4 linked regions of the Homo sapiens genome follow. The protein of the gene in region 3 purifies or fractionates together with the protein of the main gene of each other region. This does not show direct contact. Each region holds a gene or a part of one and is shown on either strand. Other genes may lie near its edges. The genes, in order: CBX1, H4C6, CHAF1B and EIF4G1.

Region 1 (7,000 bases), on a different chromosome or scaffold from region 3:
ATTCTCCTGCCTCAGCCTCCCAAGTAGCTGGGATTACAGGTGCCCGCCACCATGCCCTTTTTTTTTTTTTTTTTTTTTTTTTGAGACAGAGTCTCACTCTTGCCCAGGCTAGAATGCGGGGGCATGATCTTGGCTCACCGCAACTTCTGCCTCCAGGGTTCAAGTGCTTCTCCTGTCTCAGCCCCACCAAATAGCTGGAATTACAAGCACGCGCCACCATGCCCAGCTAATTTTTTGAATTTTTAGTAGAGACGGGGTTTTACCATGTTGGCCAGGCTGGTCTCAAACTCCTGACCTCAGGTGATCCACCAGCCTCAGCCTCCCAAAGTGCTGGCATTACAGGCGTGAGCCACCACACCAGGCCTAATTTTTGTATTTTTAGTAGAGAGGGGGTTTCACCATGTTGGCCAGGCTGGTCTCGAACTCCTGACCTCAGGTGATCCACTCACCTCGACCACTCAAAGTACTCAGGTTACAGGCGTGAGCCACCATGCCCAGCCAGATCTTTTTTTTTTTTTTTTTTTTTTTTGAGATGCAGTTTCACTCTTGTCACCCAGGCTGGAATACAATGGTGCCATCTTGACTCACCACAACCTTCGCCTCCCAGGTTCAAGTGATTCTCCTGCCTCAACCTCCCGAGTGGCTGGGATTACAGGCATGCGCCACCATGCCCAGCTACTTTTGTATTTTTAGTAGAGATGGGGTTTCTCCATGTTGGTCAGGCTGGTCTCGAACTCCTGACCTCGGGTAATCTGCCCGCCTCGCCCTCCCAAAGTGCTGGGATTACAGGACTGAGCCACCATGCCCGACCAGATCTTCTACCTTTTAATACTATCTATTAAAAAAAAAATAAAATTAGCGAGGCACTGTGGCTCACACCTGTAATCCCAGCAGTTTAGGAGGCCAAGGCAAGGGTTGTGGAGTGGTTAAGGCCATGAGTTTCAGACCAGCCTGGGCAACACAGCAAGACTCCATCTCTCTCTCTCTCTCTTTTTTTTTTTGAGAGGGAGTCTTGCTCTGTTGCCCAGGCTAGAGTGCAGCTATCTTGGCTCACAACCTCCACCTCCCGGGTTCAAGGGATTCTCCTGCCTCAGCCTCCTGAGTAACTGGGATTACAGGTGCCCGCCGCTGCACCTGGCTAATTTTTCTATTTTTAGTAGAGACAAGGTTTCACCATCTTTGCTAGGCTGGTCTCGAACTCCTGACCTCGTGATCCACTTACCTCAGACTCCCAAAGTGCTGAGATTGCAGGCGTGAGCCACCGCACCCAGCTGCGAGACTCTATCTCTAAAAGATTAATTAATTAATTAGGCCGGGCATGGTGGCTCAGGCCTGTAATCCCAGCACTTTGGGAGGCCGAGGTCGGCAGATCACCTGAGGTCAGGAGTTTAAGACTAGCCTGACCAACATGGAGAAACCCAGTCTCTACTAAAAATACAAAATGAGCCGGACGTGGTGGCGCATGCCTGTAATCCCAGCTACTCGGGAGGCTGAGGCAGGAGAATCGCTTGAACCCAGGAGGCAGAGGTTGCAGTGAGCCGAGATCACACCATTGCACTCCAGCCTGGGCAGCAAGAGCAAAACTCTGTCTCAAAAAAAAAAAAAAAAAAAGAAAAGAAAAGAAAAGAAAGAAACAAATTAGTTGGGCATGATGGCAGGCGCCTGTAATCCCAGCTACCCAACTACTTGGGAGGCTAAAGCAGGGAGAACTGCTTGAACCCAGGAGGCAGAGGTTGCAGTGAGGCCAGATCACGACACTGCATTCCAGCCTGGGCAATAGAGCGAGACTCTGTCTCAAAAATAAAATTAAAAAAAAAAAAAAAAGACACAGAAGACAGGTCTCGAAAAAAATTTACAAAAAGGTAAACAATGCAAGTTCAAGTGAGAGTCCGAAATGGCAAGCATACATAATTACCAAAAGCAGTATAAGCAATAAAAAGTAGCCATAAACGCACTATAGGAGGTTGGAGGAAGAACTGGCGAGGGCATCAGTAAACATTTTGAAAAGCTGAGTTTGAAACCAGGCTTTACTAGCATTTGAAAAGGTGTACTGGTAGGGCAATTTGGCTTCAGGAACTGTTGTAAACAAAGGCAATGTGACACATATAAACCAGTTTGGGCTGGAGCTGACTGAATAGGAAATATTTTCTACAAGGTTTCCTCCCATTTAAAACAAAAGGCCAAAGTCGTCAGTGTAACACTTATATTCTTCGGTTCTTATTCCAGACTAATTATGTCCCTTCTTCCCTCACAAAATCTACATTCCTGTCAAAGACTATAACCTGGCCACAACCTGAACATATCCTATGTTTCCTCCATAGCTTTGCTCATCTATTAAGTATTAAGAAGTGTGGGCTTAGGCCCGGCATGGTGACTCACGCCTGTAATCCCAGCACTATGGGAGGCTGAGGCAGGCGAATTACCTGAGGTCAGGAGTTCGAGACCAGCCTGACCAACATGACCCCATCTCTACTAAAAATACAAAATGAGCTGGGTGTGGTGGCGCATGCCTGTAATCCCAGCTACTCCAGAGGCTCAGGAAGGAGAATCGCTTCAACCTGGGAGGCGGAAGTTGCGATGCGCCAAGATCGTGCCACTGCACTCCAGCCTGGGCATCAAGAGTGAAACTCTGTCTCAAAAAAAAAAAAAAAAAAAAAAAAGAAGTGTGGGCTTGGTAGGGCGCAGTGGCTCATGCTTGTAATCCCAGCACATTGGGAGGCCAAGGCAGGTGGATCACTTGAGGTCAGGAGTTCAAGATCAGCCTGGCTAAGATGGTGAAACCCCAACTCTAGTAAAAATACAAAAATCATCCAGGTGTGGTGGCACATACCTGTAATCCCAGATAGTCAGGAGGCTAAAGCAGGAGAATTCCTTGAACTTGGGAGGTGAAGGCTGCAGTGAACCAAGATTGTGCCACTGCACTCCAGCCTGGGATACAGGACAAGACTCTGTCTCCAAAAAAAAAAAGTGTGGGCTGGGCTCTGTGGCCCACACCTGTAATCTCAGCACTTTGGGAGGCCGAGGTGGGTGGATCCTTCAGGCTAGGAGTTTGAGACCAGCCCAGCAACATGGTGAAACCCCGTGTCTACTAAAAATACAAAAAAAAAATTAGCCAGCATGGCGCACCTGTAGTCCCAGCTACTCAAGAAGCTGAGGCACGATAATTGCTTGAATCCGGAAAACGGGGTTAGGATGCAGTGAGCTGAGATCGCGCCACTGCACTCCAGCCTGGGTGACGGACCAAGACTCTGTCTCAAAGGAAAAAAAAAAAAAAAAAGTGTGCTCCTGACTGGGCTTGGTGGCTCACACCTATAAATCAGTACTTTGGGAAGTCGAGGCGGGTGGATCACTTGACGCCTGGAGTTCAAGACCAGCCTGGCCAACATGGTGACACCCCATATCTACTAAGAATACAAAAATTAGCCAGGTGTGGTGGTGCATGCCTGTAATCCCAGCCACTTGGGAGGGTGGGGCACAAGAATTACTTGAACCAGGCAGGCAGAGGTTGCAGTGAGCCAAGATCTTGACACTGCACTCCAGCCTCAGTGACAGAGCAAGACTCTGCCTCAAAAAAAAAAAGAAAGAAAAAAGAAAGTAGTGTGCTCCTGTACAGGGCCAACAGTCAAAATCCTATCCATTCTTCAAGACCCAGCTTAAAAATGCTACTTTCTCCATGAAGCCTACCCAACCTAGCTAAATAATATTTCTCTTTTCTTTGGGGTTCCCAAAGCATTCTGTTTCTATTTTTACTTGCACATACAATTAAAGGTAGGTCTGGAACCTGAACAAGTTGTTGAACCCTATATGGACAATAAAGATGGATGTCTCAGGTGGGGCGCGGTGGCTCACGCCTGTAATCCCAGCACTTTGGGAGGCTGAGGCAGGCAGATCTCCTGAGGTTGGGAGTTCGAGACCAGCCTGACCAACATGGAGAAACCCCATCTCTACTAAAAATGCAAAATTAGCTGGGCATGGTGGTACACGCCTGTAATCCCAGCTACCTGGGAGGCTGAGGTTGCGGTGAGCTGAGATTGCACCATTGCACTCCAGCCTGGGCAACAAGAACAAAACTCCATCTCAAAAAAAAGAGGATGACTGTCTCAGAAGCATCAGGGAATAGAATTCCAAAGCTATAAGCTTTTAAGGGAATAAGCAGCAAGATAAATCTGATCCATAAGCCCTAAAGAGAAAACAAGAAAGAAGTACCTTTTGTTGAAAGAATCAGCAACTACATACCAATCATCAAAAGGCAGGTGAAGGCATGTGTAGTATATTCAGGTGGTAGTCTTGTTTCTAAACTGCTTGTAGTCTGTAAGCTGTGGCTGTTTGCGAAGCAAATGCTTTCCAGATGGAAAACTTGACTAAGCAGAAAACAAGAACTTATGCCACACACAGTTAGCAGGAGTTTCTTTTTTTTTTGGAGATGGAGTCTTGCTCTTTCACCCAGGCTAGAGTACAGTGGTGCAATCTCGGCTCCCTGCAACCTCCGCCTCCCAGGTTCAAGCAGTTCTCCTGCCTCAGCCTCCCGAGTCACTGGGATTACAGGCATGCACCACCACGCCCAGCTAATTGTGTATTTTTAGTAGAGACGGAGTTTCTCCATGTTGGTCAGGCTGGTCTTCAGTTCCCACCTGAGGTGATCCACCCATCTAGGCCTCCCATAGTGCTGGTATTATAGGCGTGAGCCATCACGCCCAGTCAGGAGTTTCATTTTTAAAGGAACACCAGCCCTTGAATTCCAGAGGATCAAAGGCTAGAATGCTGGTGTGCGAATACATTTTGAATTTTATCTGAGATGTGTTCTGAAACTTGGAAAACCCCTTGAGTATGTTGACATGGATATTTTGACACAGATTTTTGGGTTGAGAGGCCACAAGAGTCTACAAATGTTAGTATGGACACAGAGATACCTCAAGCTATCTTTCAAAGGTGAATTTAAGATAAAATAAAAGTGGTTAGAAAGCTAGACCAGAATTATGACTACATTGGAAACGTATCAGAACACCACAGTGGCCAGGCATGGTGGCTCACACCTGCAATCCCAGCACTTTGAGAGGCTGAGGTGGGTGGATCACTTGAGGTCAGGATTTCAAGACCAGCCTGGCCAACATGGTGAGACCTCATCTCTACTAAAAATACAAAAAAAGTTAGCTGGGCATGGTGGTGTGCACCTGTATTCCTAGCTCCTCAGGAGGCTGAGGCAGGAGAATCACTTGAACCCGGGAGGTGGAAGCTGCAGTGAGCTGAGTGGAGTGCACCACTGCACTCCAGCCTGGGTGACAGAGCAAGACTTGTCTAAAAAAAGAAAAGAAAAACAAAAACCACCACAGTGGGCCAGGTGCAGTGGCTCATGTCTGTAATCCCAGTACTTTGGGAGGGTGAGGTGGGAAGATTACTTGAGGCCAGGAGTTCGAAACTAGCCTGGGCAACATAGTGAGTCCCTGCCTCTATTTATGTGAGAAAAATAAAAGTTCAAAAACCCCCACCACAAGTTGGGCGTGGTGGCTCACGCCTGTAATCTCTGCACTTTGGAGGCCAAGGAGGGTGGATCACCTGAGGTCAGGAGTTGAAGACCAACCTGGCCAACATGATGAAACCCCATCTCTACTAAAAAAATACAAAAAATTAGCCAGGCGTGGTGGCAGGCGCCTGTAATTCCAGCTACTTAGGAGGCCTGAGGCAGGAGAATCACTTGAACCGAGGAGGCGGAGGTTGCAGTAAGCTGAGATTGCGCCACTGCACTCCAGCCTGGGCAACAAGAGCGAAACTCCGTCTCAAAAAAAGAAAAAAAAACGCCACCACATTGTACCCCATAAGGATACACCATTCTTGTCAGTTAAAAATTAATACTATAGGCTGGGCGCAGTGGCTCACACCTGTAATCCCAACACTTTGGGTGGCCGAGGAGGGTAGATCACCCGAGGTCAGGAGTTCAACACCAGCCTGGCCAACATGGCAAGACCCCCATCTCTACTAAAAATACAAAAATTAGCCGGGCGTTGTCGGGGCCCCCTGGTAGTCCCAGCTACTCCGGAGGCTGAAGCAGGAGGATCGCTTGAACCTGGGAGGCGGAGGTTGCAGTGAGCTGAGATCGCGCCACTGCACTCCAGCTTTGGCGACAGAGCGAGACTCTGTCTCAAAAAAAAAAAAAAAAAATTAATACCATAGTTCTGTTACGCACTCAAAGTGTCAACTATTATTTTAAAAGGCACAATTTCACAGACAAATTAGGTTGCCCCCTTCTGGTCATCAAAGTATAAATGCTAAAGGCAGGAAAGATTTAATACAAGTTATTCTATGCAAATATTGACAAGATCTAAATTTTGTCCATATCTGAGTAACTTCTCCAAATAACCTTGGAAAGGCTATTCAATTTTTCAACAGACATTGCTACTGGTAAATTATTGCTCAGGTCAATACAAAGGACACAGAAGATTTTTCAAGATTCTTTTAAAACAGATATATTCAAGCTATTTGCTTGCTGACAAAACCCAGAATCTGAGGCCTGAGGTATTTAAAACGGCCAGTTGCACAGCCTGTATACCTTTTCTATATTTAGTACCAGAGTGAGTACAAAACTGAAGCTAACCATTCTGGGCAACAGAGACTGTCCCCACAAAAAAGAAGCCATGCATGGTGGCATGAGACTGTAGTCCTAGCTACTCAAGAGGCTGTGGTGGGAGGACTGCTTGTGTCCAGGAGGTTGAGGCTTCAGTGAGCCATGATGCCACCACTGCACTCCAGCCTGGCAACAGAGCGACACTCTGTCTTAAAAAAACAAAAAACAAACAAACAAACAAACAAAAAGAAACTAACTGAGGCTAAGACAAACATGGCAAAGCAACAGCTTAACTCTGCCAAATGTCACAGACACAGGACAAGCAAACTACTATGCACATTAATTTGGCTGAGTTCTCAGAATGGATCTCAAAGCTCCCCTATTCATCATTCATTCATCAACAATCTGAACGGCCTACTATGTGCCAGGCACTAATGAACA
Region 2 (7,506 bases), on a different chromosome or scaffold from region 3:
AAAAAAAGAACAGATGAGAAGCCACTTCTTCGGTATGGTGAAAAAATGAAAACGTTAGGAGTCAGGATCGCGGGTGATAACCGGGTAGGTTGACAAAGCACAAGGAGAAACACTTTGGGTTATAAATTACCAGTACTTGAGAAATAAAGCAGTAAAATTATCAATGACCTGAAATCACAGTAAGTGCCCCAACAAAGAATTCACTGGGTAAGACAAAAACTTGGGCTTTTTTTTTTCTTTTTGAGACGGAGCCTTGTTCTGTGCCCCAGGCCTGGAGTGCAGTGGCGCGACCTCGGCTCACTGCAACCTCAGTCTCCCGGGTTCAAGTGATTCTCCTGCCTCAGCCTCCCGAGTAGCTGGGACTACAGGCGCGTGTCACCACGTCTACGTCTAATTTTTGTATTTTTAGTAGAGACGAGGTTTTGCAGTGCTAGCCAGGCTGGTCTCGAACTCGTTGAGCTCAAGTGATCCACCCACCTCGGCCTCCCAAGCTGCTGGAATTACAGATGGGATTGCAGACATGAGCCACCGAGCCCGGCCAAACTTTACTTTTTTTTTTTTTTTTTTGAGGCATGGTCTCTGTCGCCCAGGCAGGAGTGGAGTGGCACCATCTCAGCTCACTGAAATCTCCGCCTCCCGTGCTCAAGCGATTCTCCTGCCTCAGCCCTTGCAGATTAGCTGCGACAGCAGGCGTCCGCCACAACGCCGGGCTAACTTTCCTATTTAACTTTTTTAGTTGAGACGGAGTTTCACCATTTTGGTTGCCCAGGCTAGTCTCGAACTCCTGAGCTCTAGTAATCCGCCCGCCGTGGTCTCCCAAGGTGCTGTGATTCAGGCCTGAGGCACCGCGCCCGGACACAAGTAGTGGATTAAGTTTACCAGTAATTGATCTGTCCACAGCCGCCCTAAGATTACTCACGTTCTATGCCTAATAAATAACACTAAGGCCGGGCACGGTGGCTCACGCCTGCAATCCCTGCACTTTGGGAGGCCAAGAAGGGCGGATCACCTGAGGTCGGGAGTTCGAGACCAGCCAGACCAACACAGAAAAGCCCCTTCTGTACTAAAAATAAAAAATTAGCCAAGCGTGGTGGCGCATGCCTGTAACCCCAGTTACTCGGGAGGTTGAGTCAGGAGAACCGCTTAAACCCGGGAGGGGGTGGTTGCGGTGAGCCGAGATTGCGTCATTGCACTACAGCCTGGACAAGAGCAACTCCATCTCAAAAACTAAACATGTAATGCTAGTGTAGTTAAGTCCCAGCCACCTAACATAGGAGTAAATTTCAGAAACGTGGGAATAAAACACATCACATACGTCATAAAAGGCTGCTGGTATTCCCAAACCATTTCCACCATCTTTTCCTGTGAATGTTTGCGATCGAAATACCTGAACAAGTTTCTAATGTTTCGCCTTCCCTTTCTCCTTAGCACATCCGCCATCTTAGGAAGATCGCTAAAAACGGCTCGGTTTAACTCAGTTAGAATCCCAAATTTACAAAACGAAACCCAAGTCGTCATCAGTTACAGCCCTTCGTGTGACGAAGGAGGTGGCCCTGAAAAGGGCCTTTTATGGGTGAGCTGTTAAATAAAAAGCCGGGGTGAGGCTCAGCCACCAAAGCCGTACAGAGTGCGTCCCTGGCGCTTGAGCGCGTAGACAACATCCATTGCAGTGACTGTCTTACGCTTGGCGTGCTCCGTGTAGGTTACGGCGTCCCGTATCACATTCTCCAGGAACACCTTAAGAACACCGCGGGTCTCCTCATAAATGAGGCCCGAAATGCGTTTCACGCCGCCGCGTCGGGCCAAGCGACGGATGGCGGGCTTCGTGATGCCCTGTATGTTGTCACGCAGCACTTTGCGATGGCGCTTGGCGCCTCCCTTTCCTAAACCTTTACCACCTTTGCCTCTACCAGACATGATCGAAGACAAACAACAACTCTTAACTTTTGCAACTTTGCTACACACTGAAGCCCCTTATATATCAATTATGCGGACCTTTTTGGAGACTGAATTGGAGGGGCGGGAACGAAACCTCTGTCTCCGCCTTTTCCGTAACTTACTGGGCGTCCCCTACACTATTGCCTTGGGAAGGAAAGGGGGCGGTGAGGGTAGGGGAAATGCAAGTTGATTTGACTCCTTCCTGTTTCCTTGTTTGGGTCTTGAGTGTAGGTTTCTGTGTCTTCTAGTCCAGTGCCTGTGGGCTCTCGAACTGATAATGTCTGTCTCCTAAAATCCTTATTATTTGCAAAAAGGAGGCAGTAACGCTACACTTGTCTACCGAATGGATAGACAAGAGAATAAAATTATTATTTCTTTTGAAACAGTTTTGCTCTGCCCCAGACTGGAGTGCAGTGGCGTGATCTCGGCTCACTGCAACCTCCGCCTCTCGGGTTCGAGCGATTCTTCTGCCTCAGCCCCTGCAGTAGCTGCAACTACAGGCGCGCGTCACCACGCCCGGCTAATTTTTGTATTTTTAGTAGAGATGGGGTTTCGCCATGTTGACTAGGCTGGTCTCGAACTCCTGACCTCAGGTGATCCACCCGCCTCGGCCTCCCAAAGTTCTGGGATTACAGGCGCCTAGCTTTAATTTTTAAATGTGAAGATTCTTTGAAAATGTATTTTTACTAATTTTTTTTTTTTGATACGGGGTCTCACTCTGTTGCCCAGGCTGGAGTGCAGTGGCGCTATCTCGGCTCACTGCAACCTCCGCCTTCTGGGTTCAAGCGATTCTCATGCCTCAGCCTCACGAGTAGCTGTGATTTCAGGCACGCGTCGCCACACCTGGGTAATTTTTGTATTTTCTTAGTAAAGACGGGGTTTCGCCATGTTGGCCAGGGTGGTCTCGAACTCCTGACTTCAGGTGATCCACCCACCTTGGCCTCACAAAGTGCTGGGATTACTGGCGTGAGCCACCACGCCCGGCCATTTTTATTAATTCTTAAAATGTAGCAATACTTCTTAAATTTGGCCAATCATGAGACTTAGCGTTTGGCAGAGACATATACATTCACATCGTTTTTGGCATTCCTAATAAAGAAAGACCTCTAGTAAGGGAAACCAATATTAATTGAAGTTTCATTCTTAGTTTTTCAATGTATAATGCAATATCTGAGGTGTAAAGATAAGGAATCCCAGGCTTGAAGACATTATCCTCTAATAAATGGCATTGTATTGTTGGCTCGATTCTGGAGTCTCACTACCTTGCTACCTACCACTGCTTTCATGCCACTAAAGCATACATGGTAAATCATGGTGAATAAAGGTTTGTAAATTAACAAAAATAATACTAATAAATTCTGTGAAATACTGTCCTAATAAAAGATTCCGGAAGAAGTGTTCTACACACAGATCATAGGGTATGTGTAGTAGAAAAATTCAACATTAACTCTTACAGTCTACTGCTTCACATTCATTGCCTCCTATATACTGCAAGGGTAACTTAAAAATCCCGTCTCTGCTGGTGCCTAAAAGCAGTGAGAAGATTATTCATTTTGTGGAGTTAAGAGTCTACTTAAATTTTGGCTTAGGTTCAGTTACCTGTAGGAATAGACACAAGGATCTCAAGTGCTCTCCTTTTTGAGGTAGGCACCAAACAAGCATCATTCATTCATTCAACAATTTAATGTCCACTACATGCCAAGAATAGTGTACAAATACCAGGTTTACAAAGATAATCACATTTATTCTCTTAAAGAACTCAAAAGTTTAGTAAAGGGAAAAGTACACTCAGGGTTAGGGGGCAGATATCAGACCAGCATACTTCTACTTACTGTCAGGTATTTAAGGGCGGAGCAGCCATATCCCAGCTATACTGGCATCACTCTGAAGCTTGTTAGACATACAGAATTTCGGGCCCAACCCCAAATCAATGGAATTGATATTACATTTTTAATGAGATCTCTAAGTGGGTGGTAGGTATGCTCTTCCAAGTTTGAGAATAATTGTTTTAAAGCTCTGCTGTCCTATATTAGCCACTAGCAACATGTGCTCATTTTTATTTAAATTAATTTAAATTAAAAATTAATTTGCACACTTACTCTAGCCACATTACGGTACTCAGTAGCCACATATGGTTAGTGGCTACCTATTGGACAGTGTTAATACAGAATATTTTTATCATCGCAGAAAGTTTTATTGGGCTGTATCTGTGATAAGGGGGTTTCTTCTGAAGAGCTTCTAATCCAGTCTAGAAGGGAGGAGGGAGTTTGGTGGATGCCTGAGACATGTAAAGAGAAAACTGTAAGTTTGAGTATAGTAGTGGCCTTCTTAGGAAATAAAATTAACACAATACTGTTGTACTTGAAGAGGAATTTCAAGGAGCCAGTGTCCTCAGGTAAGACTACCTCATAGACGGTTACAATCGATGTGATTTCTCATGGACTTTTTGAACACGTTTGATTCTAACACAAAGCTTTATTTTCTATAATAGTCTATATATGTTTTCACCCCTTTTAATATTTATTCTATATAGTTTCTTTTTTTTTTTTTGGAAATCTTTAAAATCTGAATTGTGTGATGCTTAAGCACAGTGTCACTGGATTGATCTATTGAATACTACCTACAACTCTCATAGTCATTTACTATGGTGGTGGTGGGGATGGGGGAGTTAACACAAAATGAAGAGAACACTGGGCCTTAAGTTAGATAGCTATCACTTATCTAACTAGTTTTTCCTAGCTACTTTTTGCATCTATAAAATAAATGGTTCCAACCTCAGTGTAATGGGAAATCTACTGTTTTAGATTATATTCAGATTTAGGATTCCAAAGCAACACAGAACTCTTTTTGAGGGCTACCAAAGTAATAGGTGAAACTTTGCAGGACTTCAAGTTTACAGTCCATGGGGTGATCCAGCTTTCAGGAACCTTGTCCTTGCTACAATTACAGAGAAGATAAGTACCAGGTCCCAACTTATGTAGCCTAGCCCCTTTCCTCTTTGAACATCTGGCGAACTTTGTTGGTGAAACTGAGTCTCAGTTATTGCCCTCCAGAAAGAGCAGAGATTAGTTAGCCCAATGCCTTTTTACTTACTGAGATCCTAAGTAGCTATGGGAACCAGTCAGTGTTGCACAAGAATGAAATGGTGGCATCTGTTAATTGACTATATCTAACACGGTGAACAATTCCAACAATTATTCAACAACTATTAAGACTACAATAATGATCAAAATAATAAACAGTAAACAATCTGAATTTTAATTGTACCTTTACGTCTAGGCAATATAAAGCTATGGTCCCAAAAAAAAATACTTAGAGTATGCTTGTGACTATCACTGTTGAAAATGATATCCATAATGATGCACCGCCCCTGCCTCCAGAAACCTATAAAATGCTTCCCTACTGGAATTGTGGGGTCCTACTAATCCAATTCTATAAGTTTAGCTTTTTTATAAACCACATTTGTATTTCAGTGGTGTATAACACGGTCTTAAGTCCCAGAGACTTGTTTCTAATACATGCAAGAGAGTAAATAATTACTTAAGACAAGCTTAGTAATTTTTTTTTTTGAGATGGAATTTCACTCTTGTTGCCCAGGCTGGAGTGCAATGGCACTATCTTGGCTCACTGCAACCTCCGCCTTCCGGGTTCAAGCGATTCTCCTACCTCAGCCTCCCAAGTAGCTGGGATTACAGGCGTGTGCCACCATGCCCGCCTAATTTTTGTATTTTTAGTATAGACAGGGTTTCACCATGTTGGTCAGGCTGGTCTTGAACTCCTGACTCAGGTGGTCTGCCCAGCATGGCCTCACAAAGTGCTGGGATTACAGGCGTGAGCCACTGCGCCTGGCCAAGACAAGCTAAGTAATTTTTATGAAATTAGTTGAATGAGGAGAGATGACATCTTTAAAGTTGATTATTTTATCTAGGATTTATATGAAAAAATCCTCTAATCACTATTGAGTGTAGGCCAGAATAACTTGATTTTTTGAAATGAGTATTTTTGTTAGAAGAAACATAACATCAAACTACTTCTCTTGTTTCTTCAACATAGGAGTTCATTTCAGCATCTGATTACTTGATGGAGAATATCAATTTTGTGCTTAATTATTTAATAATAACCTAATTCCATCAGCTGTATTGCAAACTAACAGATAAAGAATACTGAAGTTACTCATGTTTGCTTTGAAATGTTTGTTCAGCTCCTTAGGTGGACATATTCAACCAATTAATTTAGGGTGTGACAGCTTAGTTCATATTTTGTGTGTAAAAAGCCAAGTAGAATGATGAAAATTTACAGTGATTTAAATCAGATATTTTTCTTTCTAACCCTTGATGCCCACACTTGCAATGTTGAAAATTTGTATTTTATTTTTTTAAAGTGACTTTTACCAGTTATTCAAACAGGTTGTACAGAGAAAGAGGAAGGGAAATTTGTATTATAAATATGATTTTAAAATATAAAAAATGTACAAAATTCTATGATGAATATTAGCAAAAAAATAGTGTATTTCATTAAATTATTTATAAAGTGATGGGACACAAACATGTACACAAGCTCTCAATGCTCACAGTTGCCAAAATGATGTTGGCCTGCCATTCTATTATTTGTTGGTTCAGTTTTCTTTTTTGGGGATGTGGTAGTTGATCTTTAATGCCCATTCTAGATCGGAAAAATCCATGATCCTAACTTTTAAGAGAAGGTTGGTAACTCTACTTAGGACTTTTTTTTCTGTAAGAGGAATAATGTAGCCTCACCCTTATCTTTCTGGAAATGTTTAAACCACTGAAATATGGAGATCAAATCCAGCTTACACACTGGTAACTCAAATACTATTTTTTTTTTTAAACTATCTTTTCTAAACTAATCACCCCTCTTGTACATAGAACTTTCTACCTCAGTGCCAATTCCTAGAGGTTGATGCAAACAGCTCGCCAGAGAGCCTGTGCTATTGTTCCTGCGAAAAAACCCAATTTCCCTGCACATTTGGATAAAAATGAGTTTATCTATATAAAGTTGAGACGGTAAGAATTCACAGAACAATGCCCTGGAAGAGAGATTTGCAAATGAAAGAGGGAGAAATAGTATTTTTAAGGAAAACATGAAAGTTGTCTCGATTTGACCGAAGTTTGAAAGAGAGTTGGGGGAATAAGAAAAGTTTCAAGATGCCGGTTTTAAAACTATGCATAGAAACAAAGGCAGGAATGAAGCCCGAACTCTCTCGGATCAGTTTCCCCCAAGTCTCTAATTATTTCATGCCCAGATTTCTTATATTTTTACTCTTTTTTAAGGGGCAACAAACACAGCAGCGCGGTAGATACGAGGAGTCCTTTTCCAGCAGCGCCGCGCATGGAGCAAGGAACCAATCATCACTCAGCGTCTCTCTATATAAACCCTCAGCCTCCCTCGTAGAGGACATGCTGTTCTGACAGTTTGAGATTACTTATTGTCTTTTCTGGGAAGACAAAAACATGTCGGAGACTGCTCCACTTGCTCCTACCATTCCTGCACCCGCAGAAAAAACACCTGTGAAGAAAAAGGCGAAGAAGGCAGGCGCAACTGCTGGGA
Region 3 (9,286 bases):
TAGTAATGCTTCCCGGGTGCGGTGGCTCAGCCTGTAATCCCAGCACTTTGGAAGGCAGAGGTGGGCAGATCACCTGAGGTCAGGAGTTCGAGACTAGCCTGGCTAACATGGTGAAACCCTGTCTCTACTAGAAATACAGAAATTTGCTGGGCATAGTGGCGCATGCCTGTAGTCCCAGCTACTCCGGTGGCTGAGGCACGAGGATCACTGGAACCTGGGAGGTGGAGTTTGCGGTGAGCCGAGATTGCGCCATTGCACTCCAGCCTGGGCAACAAGAGCGAAACTCTGGCTCAAAAAAAAATATGTGTATATATATGTTTTTGTATATATTATATATAATATATACTTTAATATGTTATATATTTATATTATATATAATATATTTTTATATTATACATAATATATATTTTTATATTATACATAATATATATTTTTATATTATACATAATATATATTTTTATATTATACATAATATATATTTTTATATTATACATAATATATATTTTTATATTATACATAATATATATTTTTATATTATACATAATATATATTTTTATATTATACATAATATATATTTTTATATTATACATAATATATATTTTTATATTATACATAATATATATTTTATATTATACATAATATATATTTTTATATTATATATAATATATATTTTTATATTATATATTTTATATATATAAAAATATATCTATTACATATATATATATATGAATAGTAATGCCGGCTTCCTTGTGTTCTTAAGAATTAAATGCTTGTTTGTTTGTTGAGACAGTGTCTGGCTCTGTCACCCAGGCTGGAGTGCAGTGGCACGATCTTGGCTCACTGCAACCTTTGCTTCCTGGGTTCAAGCGGTTCTCCTGCCTCAGCCTCCCGAGAAGCTGGGATTACAGGCGTGTGCCACCACACTTAGATAATTTTTGTATTTTTAGTAGAGATGGGGTTTTGCTATGTTGGCCAGGCTGGTCTCGTACTCCTGGACTCAAGTGATCCGCCCGCCTTGGCCTCCCAAAGTGCTGGGATTACAGGTGTGAGCCACCATGTCTGGCAAATGCTTGATGTTTATAAATAGTAGTAAAAACTGTCCCAGACAGGTGTTAAAGAAATGTTGTTTTAAAAGATTAATGATTACCAGTTTAATAATCCACTATTTTCTTTTTTTAAAGGGTGCATTTGTTAATAGCTGGATGTGGTGGCATGTGCCTGTAGTCCCAGGAGGCTGAGACGGGAGGATTGCTTTGAGCCCAGAAGTTCTAGGTTACAGCGACCTATGATTGCGCCACTGCACTCTAGCCTGGGTGACAGAGCGAGACTCTGTATCTAAAGAGTGCATTCAGTTGGAAATTCTAATGAATCCACACAGATAGAAAGCAGAGGTCTCCTGGTCATCTTCCCACTGTCTGCCAGTCTCAGGCCCCAGACATGCCACTATTGACCCTGTGGTTTGTGTTCTTAAGAGTTTTTAAAAATAATTTTAGAACCACATAAAACACACATATATACATATAGCTTTACCTAACAAAAATGTGTGGTCAGTTTTCATGAATGTTTACCCTTGCAGTGTTGTACAATTATTTGATTTGTAATGTGTTTCAGTTTCATTTATGATTATGTCAACAATAAATGACACTATGTAAAGAAAACCATAGGCACATATAGCAGTTGGGAAGCGTTTATTTGTGAGTGTAAAGATTTGGAAAAATGTTTAAGCTTTGTGTGTAGAAAACAAACAAAAAAAATAATAAAAATAAATTTTGTGTGCGACAGGCAAGAAGCTACCGGATGTTTCACGACGACAGCATGAAGTCTTTCTTCCGTAGACTGAGTTTCACTCCCGACGGATCTTTGCTTCTCACGCCAGGTGTGTTTCGTAGCTTTGGACTTAAAGGAATGATGGCCGAGTGGGGATGTCTGCTCCCGTTTTACGCTGCAGCTTATCAGCTCAGTGAATGCTGATTAGAGTGGGGGTCCCCGACTTACCTGCCCATTGGAACCTCCAGGAGAGCTTCAAAAAACACATTGGTGCCTATGTCCCATCCCTAGAGATTGTAGTGTATGTAATTGGTCTGGGTGGCCTGGCTTTTGGAATTTTAAGAAGATTTCCAAGTGATTGTAATGTGCAGAAAAGTTTGGGAGTAATGAGTTTAAAATGATAGGCATTTTCTCTTAGATAAATTTAACTTTTGGCTGGGCACAGTGGATCACACCTGTAATCCCAGCACTTTGGGAGGCTGAGGCGGGCGGATCACTTGAGGTCAAGAGTTCATGACCAGCCTGGCCAACATGGTGAAACACCCTCTCTATTAAAAATACAAAAATTAATGATGTGGTGGCGCATACCCTGTAATCCCAGCCACTTGGGAGACTGCGGCAGGAGAATCGCTTGAACCCAGGAGGCAGAGGGTGCAGTGAGCCGAGATCACACCACTGTACTCCAGCCTGGGCGACAGAGTGATATCTTATCTAAAAAAAAAAAAAAAAAAAAAAAAAGAAACTTTACTATTTAAACCCTTTCAATGAATGCTTTTTCATTCATTAACATGTGTATGGAAGCCATAGCGCTAAAGCCAAAGATAAAGCTCCTTTATTGTTTTTATTCTCCTCAATAAAGCGCATTTGTGACAGGATTAGACTCATGGACAAACTTGTGGAAGCAGCAGTGGTCAAAATCAAAAGGTCAGCCAAGTAGCAAGGACTAGATAGGTTTATTGTCCCTATGTCCCTAGGAAGGCAAGGGGCTCAGCCCAGCAAGATAAGGCTAGGCATTATTGTGGCCACAGTGTTCTCAGAGGAGAATGTCTGCTCATTGCCGTGGCTCCAGGACCATCCTGTGCATAGAGATGACAACATAGCCCAGGGTTGGGCCAAACGGGAGGGCACTGTCTTGGTTTGCCACTGAGTCCCATCCCAGCTGAGCCAGGGAGGGCCTGAGAAGGGCGTGAATCACACATGCAGCTGTGTGGGTGGGGCTTTAAAGAACACTGCGGAACATGTGCGAATGACACTTTGGCCCAAGAAGTCTCAGGACTAAGAATAAGTAGTTGTTTAGGTTATATTTACTAAAGTTAGTTATTAAAAGTTATTCACTAAACCCAGTAATAAATCCTTTTTTTTTTTTTTTTTTTTGAGACTGAGTTTTGCCCTGTTGCCCAGCTGGAGTGCAGTGGCACGATCTTGGCTCACCACTGCAGCCTCCGCCTCCCAGTTTCAAGCGATTCTCCTGCCTCAGCCTCCTGAGTAGCTGGGATTACAGGTGTGCGCCACCACTCCCAGCTAATTTTTGTATTTTTAGTAGAGACGGGGTTTCACCATGTTGGTCAGGCTGGTCTCAAACTCCTGACCTTGTGATCCGCCTGCCTTGGCCTCCGAAAGTGCTGGGATTACAGGCTTGAGCCACCACGCCCGGCCCTTTTTTTTTTTTTAAATTATTTATTTTATTTATTTATTAATTTATTTATTTTGAGATGGAGTTTCGCTCTTGTTACCCAGGCTGGAGTGCAATGGCACGATCTCGGCTCACAGCAACCTCCGCCTCCCGGGTTCAAGCCATTCTCCTGCCTCAGCCTCCGGAGTAGCTGGGATTACAGGCATGCGCCACCACGCCCAGCTAATTTTGTATTTTTAGTAGAGACGGGGTTTCTCCATGTTGGTCAGTCTGGTCTCGAACTCCGGACCTCAGGTGATCTGCCCACCTTGGCCTCCCAAAGTGCTGGGATTATAGGTGTGAGCCATTGCGCTGGCCTTTTTTTTTTTTTTTTTTTTTTTTTTTAAAAAGCAGAGTCTCGCTCTGTCACCCAGGCTGGAGTGCAGTGGCACCATCTTGGCTCACTGTAGCCTCCACCTCCTGGGTTCAAGCGATTCTCCTGCCTCAGCCTCCTGAGTAGCTGAGATTACAGGCGCCTGCCACCACAACCAGATAATTTTTGTATTTTTAGTAGAGATGGGGTTTCGCCATGTTGGCCAGGCTGGTCCCAAACTCCTGACCTCAGGTGATCTGCCCACCTTGGCCTCCCAAAGTGTTGGGATTACAGGTTACAGGTGTGAGCCACTGCGCCCAGCCCCAGTAGCAAATCCTTTACTATTTGGCCACTCTAAAAATATTTTCAATTAAAATCAAGTAGCAAATGGATGTCTGTTATCAACGTTATTGTTCTTTGTGGTGTTAGTAAGTGTGGGAAAAACAGGAAAATGAAATTACAAAGATTGGAAAAGAACAGATAAAAAACTGCAATAGGATTGTATTTCTAGAAAATCCAAGAGATTTTAAAAATAGTATTAGAATTTTTAAAATAATTTGATAAGATGGCTGGATATTATAAAATATATAAAAATTCCTATCTTTCGTCTATATTGGCAGTGAGTACTTAGAAATGGAAGGAGGAGAAATATTTCATTCAGAGTAGTGCAAAACCTGCAAAATACATAGAGTAAATTTATTTATTTATTTATTTTTTGAGACAGGGTCTCACTCTGTCACCCAGGCTGGAGTACAGTGGTGTGATCATGGCCCACTGCATCAGCCTTGATCTCCTGAGTTCAGGGAATCCTCCCACCTCAGCCTCCCTACTAGCTGGGACCACAGGCGTGTAGCACCATGCCTGGCTAATTTTCTTATTTTTTTGTAGAGACATGGTCTTGCTATGTTGCCCAGGCTGGTCTTAAACTCCTGGGCTCAAGCACCCCTTCCGCCTCGGCCTCCCAAAGAGCTGGGATTACAGGTGTGAGCCACCACACCCAGGCAGAAGTAAATTTAATGAGAAAGGGGCAGGACCTTTATGGAGAAGTCTAGAAGGTCTTACTGAAGGTTATAAAGCAAGTTCTGAACAAATGGAAAGATATGTCGTGTTCTAACAATTAACATACTAATTTCATTTCCAATTAGAATTGCATTAAAGTTTTTTTTTAATTGGATGAAATCTCAGCTTTGTTTAGTAGAATAAATGCTGAAGAATAGCCAAAGAAGTATTAAAAAAAAAACAGTGATACTTGGGAGGGCATTTGCCTCACCACATATCAGAAGATCCTATAACACTACTTTTAGCCAATCAATATGGTGTTGCTATAGGACCAAACAAATAGATTAGTGGACCAGAACACAGAATCCAGAAAAAGATCTCAGGATATAAGGCGATTTAATATATGACCTCAGGTGCTGTTCCAGTGGAAAAAAATCTATTATTTATTTGTAATTAATTGTATGTTACTTAAATAATTCTCAAGAGAATTAGACACTGAAGGCAGATAGGACAAGAGTATGTCATTAAGAAGGTTGGGAAGTGTTGAGATTGGACAAAGACCTATTCCTCTTTTTTTTGAGAGGGTTTCACCCTTGTCGCCCAGGCTTGAGAGCATTGGCGTGATCTTGGCTCACTGCAACCTCCATCTCCTGAGTTCAAGTGATTCTTCTGCCTCAGCCTCCCAAGTAGCTGGGATTACAGGCGCCGGCCACCATGCCCAGCTAATTTTTGTATTTTTAGTAGAGATGAGGTTTTACCATGTTGGCCAGGGTGGTCTCAAACTTCTGATCTCAGGTGATCCACCCGCCTCAGCCTCCCAAAGTGCTGGGATTACAGGCGTGAGCCACTGCACCTGGCCTCCTTTTTTTTTTAATTGACAGATGAAATTGTATGTAGTTGTGTATGACATGATGTTTTGAAGTATATATATGTTGTGGAATGACTAAATCTAGCTAATTAGCATAGCATGGTCTCACATAATTAGGATTTCTGTGGTTTGAACGCTTTATATCTCTTAGCATTTTTCAGGAATATAATACATTGTTATGAACCATAATCACCATGTTGTACAAGAGATGGATCTTGCAAAGGGAGGACTCTATTATTGAATGAGTAGTGCTGGGGTAGCCAGCTATGTGGAAGAAGGTAAAATTGGACCCCTTGCCTAGATGTAAAAAATAAATTCCAGGTGAATTCAGTACTTAAACACAAAAGGTAAAAATAGAAAACTCTTGTAAGGAAATATAGGAGGACATTCTAGGAATGGAGAAGACCCAATTAAGACTGGAAACTGGCTGGGCATGGTGGCTCAAGCCTGTAATCCCAGCACTCTGGGAGGCCAAGGTGGGTGGATCACCTGAGGTCTGGAGTTCAAGACCAGCCTGGCCAACATGGCAAAACCCTGTCTCTACTAAAAATACAAAAATTAGCCGGGCATGGTGATGCACACCTGTAATCCCAGCTACTCAAGAGCCTGAGGCAGGAGAATCGCTCCAACCCAGGAGGCAGAGGTTGCAGTGAGCCAAGATCGCACCACTGCACTCTAGCCTGGGCAACAGAGTGAGACTCTGTCTAAAAAAAAAAAAAAAAAGTATATGTTCAAGGATGCTTATTGCAAGCATTGTTTATAGTGGTAAAAAACCAAAAGCCAAAAAAATACTCATTAACAGAGGCTGGGTGAATGAATCTTGCAGTAAATATTATGCAGCTACAAAAAAATAATGCATCAGTGCTATGCAAGTTAACTTTCATGAGTAGTTGATTGAAACAAGCAAAATAAGGAGAAGTGTCAGTTTTGTAAAACAAATGGACTCAATAAAAAATATCATAGAGGTATACATGTGATTGAGTTATAACTGATTGTAATGATTATGTGAGCATGGAGGAAATATACAGATGACATAATGGTTTGTTGAATGTTAAAATGGATTTCTTGGGGATGGAAGAATGGAGTGGGATGAAAAGAGGGGCCTGGGTGCAGTGACTCACGCCTGTAATCCCAGCACTTTGGGAGGCGGAGGAGGGCAGATCACTTGAGGTCAGGAGTTCGAGACCACCCTGGCCAACATGGTGAAACCCCCTCTCTACTAAAAATACAAAAATTAGCCGGGCATCGTGGCAGGTGCCTGTAATCCCGGCTACTCAGGAGGCTGAGGCAGGGGAATTGCTTGAATCTGGGAGGTGGAGGTTGCAGTGAGCCAAGATCACGCCATCGCACTCCAGCCTGGGTGACAGAGCAAGACTCCATCTCAAAGAAAAAAAAAAGAGGGCAGCTATGTAGAATGTATTAATAATAATAATAAAAAAGACTATTGATACTGTCTACTGCCCTCCCTGGTGGATATGAAACAGTCATATGTAAAGTTACGTGTGTGTATATGTATCAAGAAATAGCATAAAACAGGGAGATGTTTCCAAGAGCAGCAGTGTATGATGGTCACTCTGACAGGGCTGAACTGTTTTAAGTACAGCAGGGGGTGAGTGTAGAAGAGCTCTCAGATGGGGACTGTTCCCCAGAGTGAAGTCAGGTTCTGAAGGAGGCTGGAGGTTTCAGCAGAGGGCAAGGTCTCCTGGCAGCCTCATGGCTGGATAGGGAAGTTGGGGAAAGGCGAGTCTCAGCCTTTGGATGGCATCCAAGGCTGGAATCCAGGAAATAGAGATGAGGGTCCTAGGGAGAAAGGAGCCTGGGCAGCTGAATCTAGTCACGGTGCTTCAATCGAGGAATTGCCTGGAGGCTCAACGGTGCCCTATGGCAAAGGCTCACTATGTTCTCCTCGCCCAAGATCAGAACCAGGTCCCCGGGGATTGCCCACAGGTAGGTGGAGATGACAGGTAGGTAGAACTGGAGTAAGGGCTGAGAACAGACAGTGCCGGAATATATGTTTTTGTGCTCTGTCACAACATTGTCCAGAGAATATAACTGCAGGGGGAAGTATTTTGCAAACCGGACCTGAAGGCTCTTGAGTTTCTGTTGGTGAACAGTTTGCTGAAACAGTGACTTTTCTTTCCTCTCCCTCCCTTCCCTGTTCCCCAGCTGGATGTGTGGAATCTGGTGAAAATGTAATGAATACCACTTATGTTTTCTCCAGGAAGAATCTTAAAAGGTATGCAGTCAAGGAAATGTTTGAAATGTTTACATTTTTTTTAGACGGAGTTTCGCTCTTGTTGCCCAGGCTGGAGTGCAATGGTGCGATCTCTGCTCACTGCAACCTCTGCCTCCCGGGTTCAAGTGATTCTCCTGCCTCAGCCTCTTGAGTAGGTGGGATTACAGGTGCCCGCCACCACTCCTAGTTAATTTTTGTATTTTTAGTAGAGATGGGGTTGCACCATGTTGGCCAGGTTGGTTTCAAACTGCTGACCTCAAGTGGTCCGCTTGCCTCGGCCTCCCAAAGTGCTGGGAATACAGGCATGAGTCATTGCACCCGGCTTGTATTTTTTTTTTTTTTTTTTTTTTAGTAGAGATGGGGTTTCGTCATGTTGGCCAGGCTGGTCTTGAACTCCTGACCTCAGGTGATCCGCCTGCCTCCTCCTCCCAAAGTGCTGGGTTTATAGGTGTGAGCCACCGCGCCCTGCCAAAATGTTTACCTTTTATTTTTGCTTTTGCTTAGTCACAGTGCCTTTTCCTAACACTGCAATTAATCCATTAGGCCCATCGCTCATCTTCCATGTCCTGGAAAAGCCACTCTTGCTGTTCGCTGCTGTCCGGTCTACTTTGAACTGAGGCCAGTGGTGGAAACAGGTATCCTCAGAGCCTCAGGGGTGTGTTATGTTTTCTCTCCGAAACAGGTCACCAGAGTGGGGTGGAGATTTGGATTCTGTCTTATGGGGAAAGGTGGGTATCTGGGTTTGGTTCAGTTCAGTTATTTTAAAAATATTTTATTTTTACATTTAAATCTATTTATTTATTTATTTTGAGACCAGGTTATCAGCCTGGTTAATTTTTGTATTTTTGGTAGCGACAGCGTTTCACCATGTTGCCAAGGCTGGTCTTGAACTCCTGGACTCAAGTGATCCACCTGCCTCGGCCTCCCAAAATGCTGGGATTACAGGTGTGAGCCCCTGTGCCCGGCCTGGTTTAGTTATTTTTAAAAGCTGGAGCAAAGACTGGGGTTATCAAAATACATGTCAGTTTTTTTTTTTTTTTCTTTCTTCAGGATATATTTTCTTGCTTAAGGCACTTTAAAAGGAATGGACGTACTCCTTTTGTTTGTCTATGTCTCTCATTATCAATTTTCTTTTTCTTTTTTTTTTTTTTGAGATGGGGTCTTGCTCTGTCGCCCAGGCTGGAGTGCAGTGGTGCAATCTTGGCTCACTGCAAACCCTGCCTCCCAGGTTCAAGGGATTCTCCCTCCTATCCTCCAGAGTAGCTGGGATTACAGGCGCATGCCACCACACCCAGCTAATTTTTGTATTTTTAGTAGAGATGGGATTTTGCCATGTTGGCCAGGCTGGTCTCGAACTCCTGACCTCAGGTGATCCACCCACCTTGGCCTCCCAAAGTACTGGGATTATAGGCGTGAGCCATCATGCCCAGC
Region 4 (5,157 bases), on a different chromosome or scaffold from region 3:
GATTTGTTTTTGCTGAGTGGGGGCAGGACATTAAAACAACTGTAATAGGTGAGAGGTGATTCAGTGTTCACAGGTGCCCCAAACGGGACCTCAGTCCCCCTTCGCCGACTGACTGAAGAGGGGAGTCAATGTCCGACAAAAATTCTGTGGTAGGGTGCTTAGCCAGGACCGAAAGGCTACCTCTTTAAGAAGATGGGGACACGGCTGGGAGAAGCAGGTTCCCAGCACAGGGCCACTCCCAGGACTGTGAAGGCAGAGGTGTAGGCGGAGGGGAGTGTGTGTGTGGGCGCGCAAGGCCAGTCGCCGAGGGCTGGAGTGGTGGGGGCATCGGGCTGCCCAGCCCCTCCCGGGGCTGTGCGTCTCCGGCCACCCTGAGCAGTGGGCACACGGCAGCCAGCGGCGAGACCATGCGTCTGCCCTGCAAAACCCCAAGGCAGGCAGGCCGTGGGAGCGAACCGGAGTCGGTCTGGCCCCTTCCCTGCTCATTCCCGCTCCCTCCTGTTGCCTGGCCCGCCTCCCGGTGCAGGCTCCTCCCTCTCCCGACACCGGCCCCCTCCTCAAGGCCCCCACCCACCCGCGGCCCGCGCACCGGCGGCCGCAGCCCGACTCCCCAACCCGTACCCGGCCTCCGCCTCTTACCCTGACCCGCCGGGCTCCGAGAGCCGATACAGCCCATGGCCGGGCACCCAGGCACGCTAGCCTGCGCTCGGGGCGCGGGCCATCGCCTTGCAGAGGGTAGGGTCGCGGCCACACTGGGGAGGGGAGAGCCCGTGAGAGGGGAGGGGTGGGAGCCGCGCGTCCGCCGCCGCTCCCCGGAGAGGGAACCGGGCCGGTGACGTAAGCGCGGGGGCGTGACCGCCGCGTCACCACCCAAAGTAGGCGGGGCGCAGCGACGTCACAGCCACGCAGAGGCGGCCTGGACCGGGTTCGAAAATGCCGGTCCTCTCCTCCCAGAGCCGACTGCCACCTGAAGGCAGGGGCGGCGAACACTCACTAAGCCAGCCCAGTCACACTACACGGGGTCGCAAAACCTCCCTTCATGCATCCAGCCCCTTCATTTTACAGATGACACCTTCAAGCCATAAAGGGATTCTCCAGCTATAAACAACCCGAAACCCAAAAGCCTTCCCCACACAGGGGCTTGAATCATTCTGGTAGGAGAGCAGAGCCTAGCAAGGATGTCCTATCACTAATCTCCCTTTTCTCCGGACCAGGAAGGCACCTATCAAGCCCATCTGAGGGCCCAACCTTCCAGGAAACCTCAGATCCCTGCAATCATGGACAGGGGAAGAGGCAGGAGGGGTGCCAGGTTACAGGGAACAGCGCTACAGTACCAGCTCTGGGAAGGATCCCCACCTATAAACACCTTCTCTAGAGGGAGCAGGGCATAAAGCAGAAAGGCAGTGAGCTTAATTGAATTCATGTTTAATAATTACAGGCACCGTGCCCCCCCTTCCCCCTGCCCAGGCAACAGCAGGGGTGGTACAGGGGCTGGGGCATATGCCCCCAGCAGCGAGGACGGCAGTCCCGAGAGTGATTTTCAGAAAATAAAAAAAAGGACCCCAGGGGCAGGCGTTGGTGCCCCTCCCCACCCCAAGACACACCAAATTTCAAGACTTTATATATAATATATCTCTGTGCCCCAGGGGGAGGAGAGGGACACCTGGCGGCATCCTGGAGGGGGGCCCAGGCAGCCCCAAGCCATCCTGCCTCTTCAGCCACTTTATTAGTTCAGACACATCACACTACAGGCACCCACTGCCACCGCCGCTGCTGCCGCCCCCCTGCAGTCCAGGCGGCTAGCCGGGCCATCTGTGTGTCCATGGGGCTCCAGGTCCCCGGCCCCACCAGCCCTCAGTTGTGGTCAGACTCCTCCTCTGCTTCACGGAGCCACTTGAAGAAGGCTGTGACAGATTTAAGGGCCACACCCTTGCCCTGCTGCTCAGCGGGGTCCTTGCTACTCTCCCAACTGTAGAAGGCATCCTCCTTCACCACGTCCTCGTCATACAGTGCGTCAAAGAACATCCGCAGCAGGTCTGCAAGCAGGCGGGACAGCAGTTAGAGGTGACTGGCCACCGCCACCCCAGCCCACCCCAGGGAACCCTCCCAAGTTCCACTGTTCAAACAAGGCCCTGATGCACCAGCCTGACATTTGTGGCCATTCCAGAGTGACTAGGCCTCTGACAGGATGCTAATCTCATGATCTGAGACTGCTGCACAGCAATGAGTCACTTGGCCATCAGAAAAACCTTACAAACTTGCTTGGCCTCACCTTGGCAGCCTGAAACCTCTCTGCCCATGATGTATTTAATGGAGAAAACTATATTCAGAATTGGTACTCCTGAATTCAGGAAATCGCTAAAAGTCCTATATATATCATACATAAAGTCCTATATATATCCTACATGTAACCTGAACATTCACTGCCCCCCAAACAGATCCTGACAACTCCTGATCTCAATTTCCCTTCCTTCCCCACACATTTCCTGTACATACACACCTTCTCTGGCCTTGACACTTTTGTGGATGCTATATCCTTTGCCGGAAACTTCCTCGTGTCTTGTTCCTTCAGGACTCAACTCAAGCATCACCTGTTCGGGCCCTCTTTCTCCTCAACCCCTAGCTGCTGGGTAGCCTTCCCAAGCAACGTGTCCTATAACCCCTGAAACACAACCGACCCCAGTGCCCACAAGGCACCACCAGTCTTTCCAAACCAAACCTTACACTTCTAAGCCATCTATGAGATGCTGCCAGCCAGGATGTTCTGCAGGGCATGCCCAGCCTCAAAGTCACAAACTGCCTAGGGGCACAGTCACCTGCTACCCCCACCCCATAGCAATGGGCCATAGCAGGGCAGAACCTTCACTTAACCCGTACCTACACTCCAAATCCCACACATACCCACCCAGGGACCCCATCCAATCGATTATGCACTCTGCCCTGTATTTTCAAGCCCAAGTTTCTCTAACCTAAAAACAAAAAGCCCTGTTTTCAACCACTATCTTACAGCTAATAAAATATTTTGTCTACACTTGATGTTTTCCCTTCTTTCTGTCTCACTTAAGTATTTCTCAGTCCTTTCCAATCCAGAATCTGTCCCCTGCCCCACTAAATACTGTTTTTGCCAGGGTGGCCTCTATGTTTTTATATTCCAAACATCCTGCATTTTCAGGCCCACTCCTACAAACGCTCACAGCAGCATCTGGCATTATCAACCACATCCCTCTCCTCAAATTTCTCTGTCCTTGGTTCAGAGGGGCCTGTCCTCCTTTGGTCCCTACCAGTATGTCCGCTCTACCTCCTTGGGGCTGTATCTCAGGCCCTTATCACTCTCCCTCAGGCAAGCCCGTATCCTCTTATGACTTGCACATGAGTTACCCTGTGCCGGCATTTCACAAAGCTGCCTCCTGCCCTGATCTCTTCTTTTCCAAAAGGACCCAGATACCCCAGCTATTGAGCTGACATCTCGATTCCCTTACTCAAGGACCACAACTCAACTTGATCCACCGTTGCCTACCCCAGCAAATGACATCACACTATGGCCTCTAAGCCCACTGTGATTTAAAAACCATCCTGGGAGTCATCCATGACTTCTAATCTCTCACGGCCCCCTCCCCAGACCAGTGTAACCAAAAGCTGCCAACTCCATTTCCTAAGTATCTCTTGATCTGCCTACTCCTCTCCACCATCACCAGCAAGGCTGAGCCACTGGTGCTAACACTGCCACATCCACTCTCACCCCATTCCAAACCACTCTTCCCTCTATTGCCAAGATGATCTAAAAACTAAAATCAAATTCCTTTATTCCTTGCTTAAAATCCCACAAAGGCGTTTTCTTGCCCCCAGGCTAAAGCCCCAGACTCTGGCCATGGCTTACACCCGGCCCTGTGTGGTCAGGCCCACATCCCTCTCTTCGGCCCCATCTTGCCTCACTTAGGACTGGTTGCTGTGCTCTCCCACACTGGCCTTTCTTTAATAGTTCTTTTCCCTGTGTCAAGTTCTTCCTACCATAGGTAGAAAGAACACACATAGTGCCTTCGCTTCAAACATTCTCCCCCTCCCCTTCCCAGTTGTTGTGGAGTGAATTACCACTCATTACCCCTCAGACCAGGTGTCCTCCCTCCGAGAGCACCCGTCTTCCCAGGCTCATTGCTCACGCCAGTACTAACTCCAGGCCAGCACAGGAAATTGCTCGGCTTCCTCTCTGTGAGCATGCCAATGCCCTGACACATACCTATGTTCTGAATGCATAACCTGAGACATGTTCACTGAGACCTCAGTCTCCTCATGTGGAAAATAGGGGTAATACCATCCACCCTAAACAACATTTGTGAGGACTACATGAGGCAAGGTAAGCAAAGCATTTCAGCCCTGTGCCACGCCGTGGGGGCACACGGTACTGGGAAGATCCTATCATTTATCACCTCTGCACTGTTGGCATCAAACACATGGCTAGGCACAAAACAGGCAATTACCCTTCAAGGCTGTGTCTAACTCCTTCCACTTGTAGGAACAACACAACACAAACGTAAAAGGAAAGAATGAAACCCAGAGGGCATTTTGCTCTCTAATGACTACCTACCTTTCTTGGATTAAGACCCTTCCATGAAGGGTCTCATGCCCTGCTATCTGGCAGTCCCTCCACCCCACCCCTGTCCCCATGGCCTGGCTCTTACTGGGAGGCTGTTCTAAGGTCACTACAAGGGCCTGGAGGGCGTAGAGCGCCTGTAGCTCCTTCTGCTCGTCACACAGGTATTTCTGCAGCAGCTTCGCTCGCGCTTTCAGCACTGCAACGTCCACTCGGAGGGGAGTCTCAACTACAAGAAGACAGGGATGAGTGGAGCAATATACCCTTACCCCGGTTCAGAACTGGGAGGCCAAGGCTGACACCCACCTCCCTCCACTTGTCTGTCAGGCCCACCCTTGCCCCTCCATCTCCCTGGTTCCTCTTACAAATAATTGCAGAATAGCAGACAGCCGTCATGAGGGCTCGAACTAACGTGTTGGATACTATCTGCTGCTCACTCAGGTTGGCCTGTATGGGAGAAACAAATGATCCCCAGATTCTGAATTGGGCCCTTCAGTCTTCATTCTTGCTGCCCCCACCCCCACCCTAAGAACTACCTTTCCTTTATCGATATCCAGGAGAAACCTACC

The links.
Region 1: the proteins of CHAF1B (region 3) and CBX1 purify together in Homo sapiens (affinity purification with mass spectrometry; 4 studies listed by BioGRID and IntAct, with this or other methods). This does not show direct contact.
Region 2: the proteins of CHAF1B (region 3) and H4C6 purify together in Homo sapiens (affinity purification with western blotting; 2 studies listed by BioGRID, with this or other methods). This does not show direct contact.
Region 4: the proteins of CHAF1B (region 3) and EIF4G1 purify together in Homo sapiens (affinity purification with mass spectrometry; 2 studies listed by BioGRID and IntAct, with this or other methods). This does not show direct contact.

What each region holds. Positions count from the first base shown.
Region 1 is NC_000017.11:48,091,479-48,098,478, forward strand, and holds part of CBX1 (chromobox protein homolog 1), read right to left. Parts: intron 1-7,000. UniProt on the Homo sapiens protein: Component of heterochromatin. Recognizes and binds histone H3 tails methylated at 'Lys-9', leading to epigenetic repression. Interaction with lamin B receptor (LBR) can contribute to the association of the heterochromatin with the inner nuclear membrane.
Region 2 is NC_000006.12:26,234,837-26,242,342, reverse strand, and holds H4C6 (histone H4), read right to left. Parts: upstream 1,951-7,506; 5' UTR 1,918-1,950; coding exon 1,606-1,917; 3' UTR 1,550-1,605; downstream 1-1,549. Other genes in the region: H1-3 (histone H1.3), read left to right, coding at 7,410-7,506. UniProt on the Homo sapiens protein: Core component of nucleosome. Nucleosomes wrap and compact DNA into chromatin, limiting DNA accessibility to the cellular machineries which require DNA as a template.
Region 3 is NC_000021.9:36,400,976-36,410,261, forward strand, and holds part of CHAF1B (chromatin assembly factor 1 subunit B), read left to right. Parts: intron 1-1,782; coding exon 1,783-1,876; intron 1,877-7,785; coding exon 7,786-7,855; intron 7,856-8,398; coding exon 8,399-8,490; intron 8,491-9,286. UniProt on the Homo sapiens protein: Acts as a component of the histone chaperone complex chromatin assembly factor 1 (CAF-1), which assembles histone octamers onto DNA during replication and repair.
Region 4 is NC_000003.12:184,331,606-184,336,762, reverse strand, and holds the end of EIF4G1 (eukaryotic translation initiation factor 4 gamma 1), read right to left. Parts: coding exon 5,157-5,157; intron 5,036-5,156; coding exon 4,954-5,035; intron 4,818-4,953; coding exon 4,677-4,817; intron 2,037-4,676; coding exon 1,855-2,036; 3' UTR 1,410-1,854; downstream 1-1,409.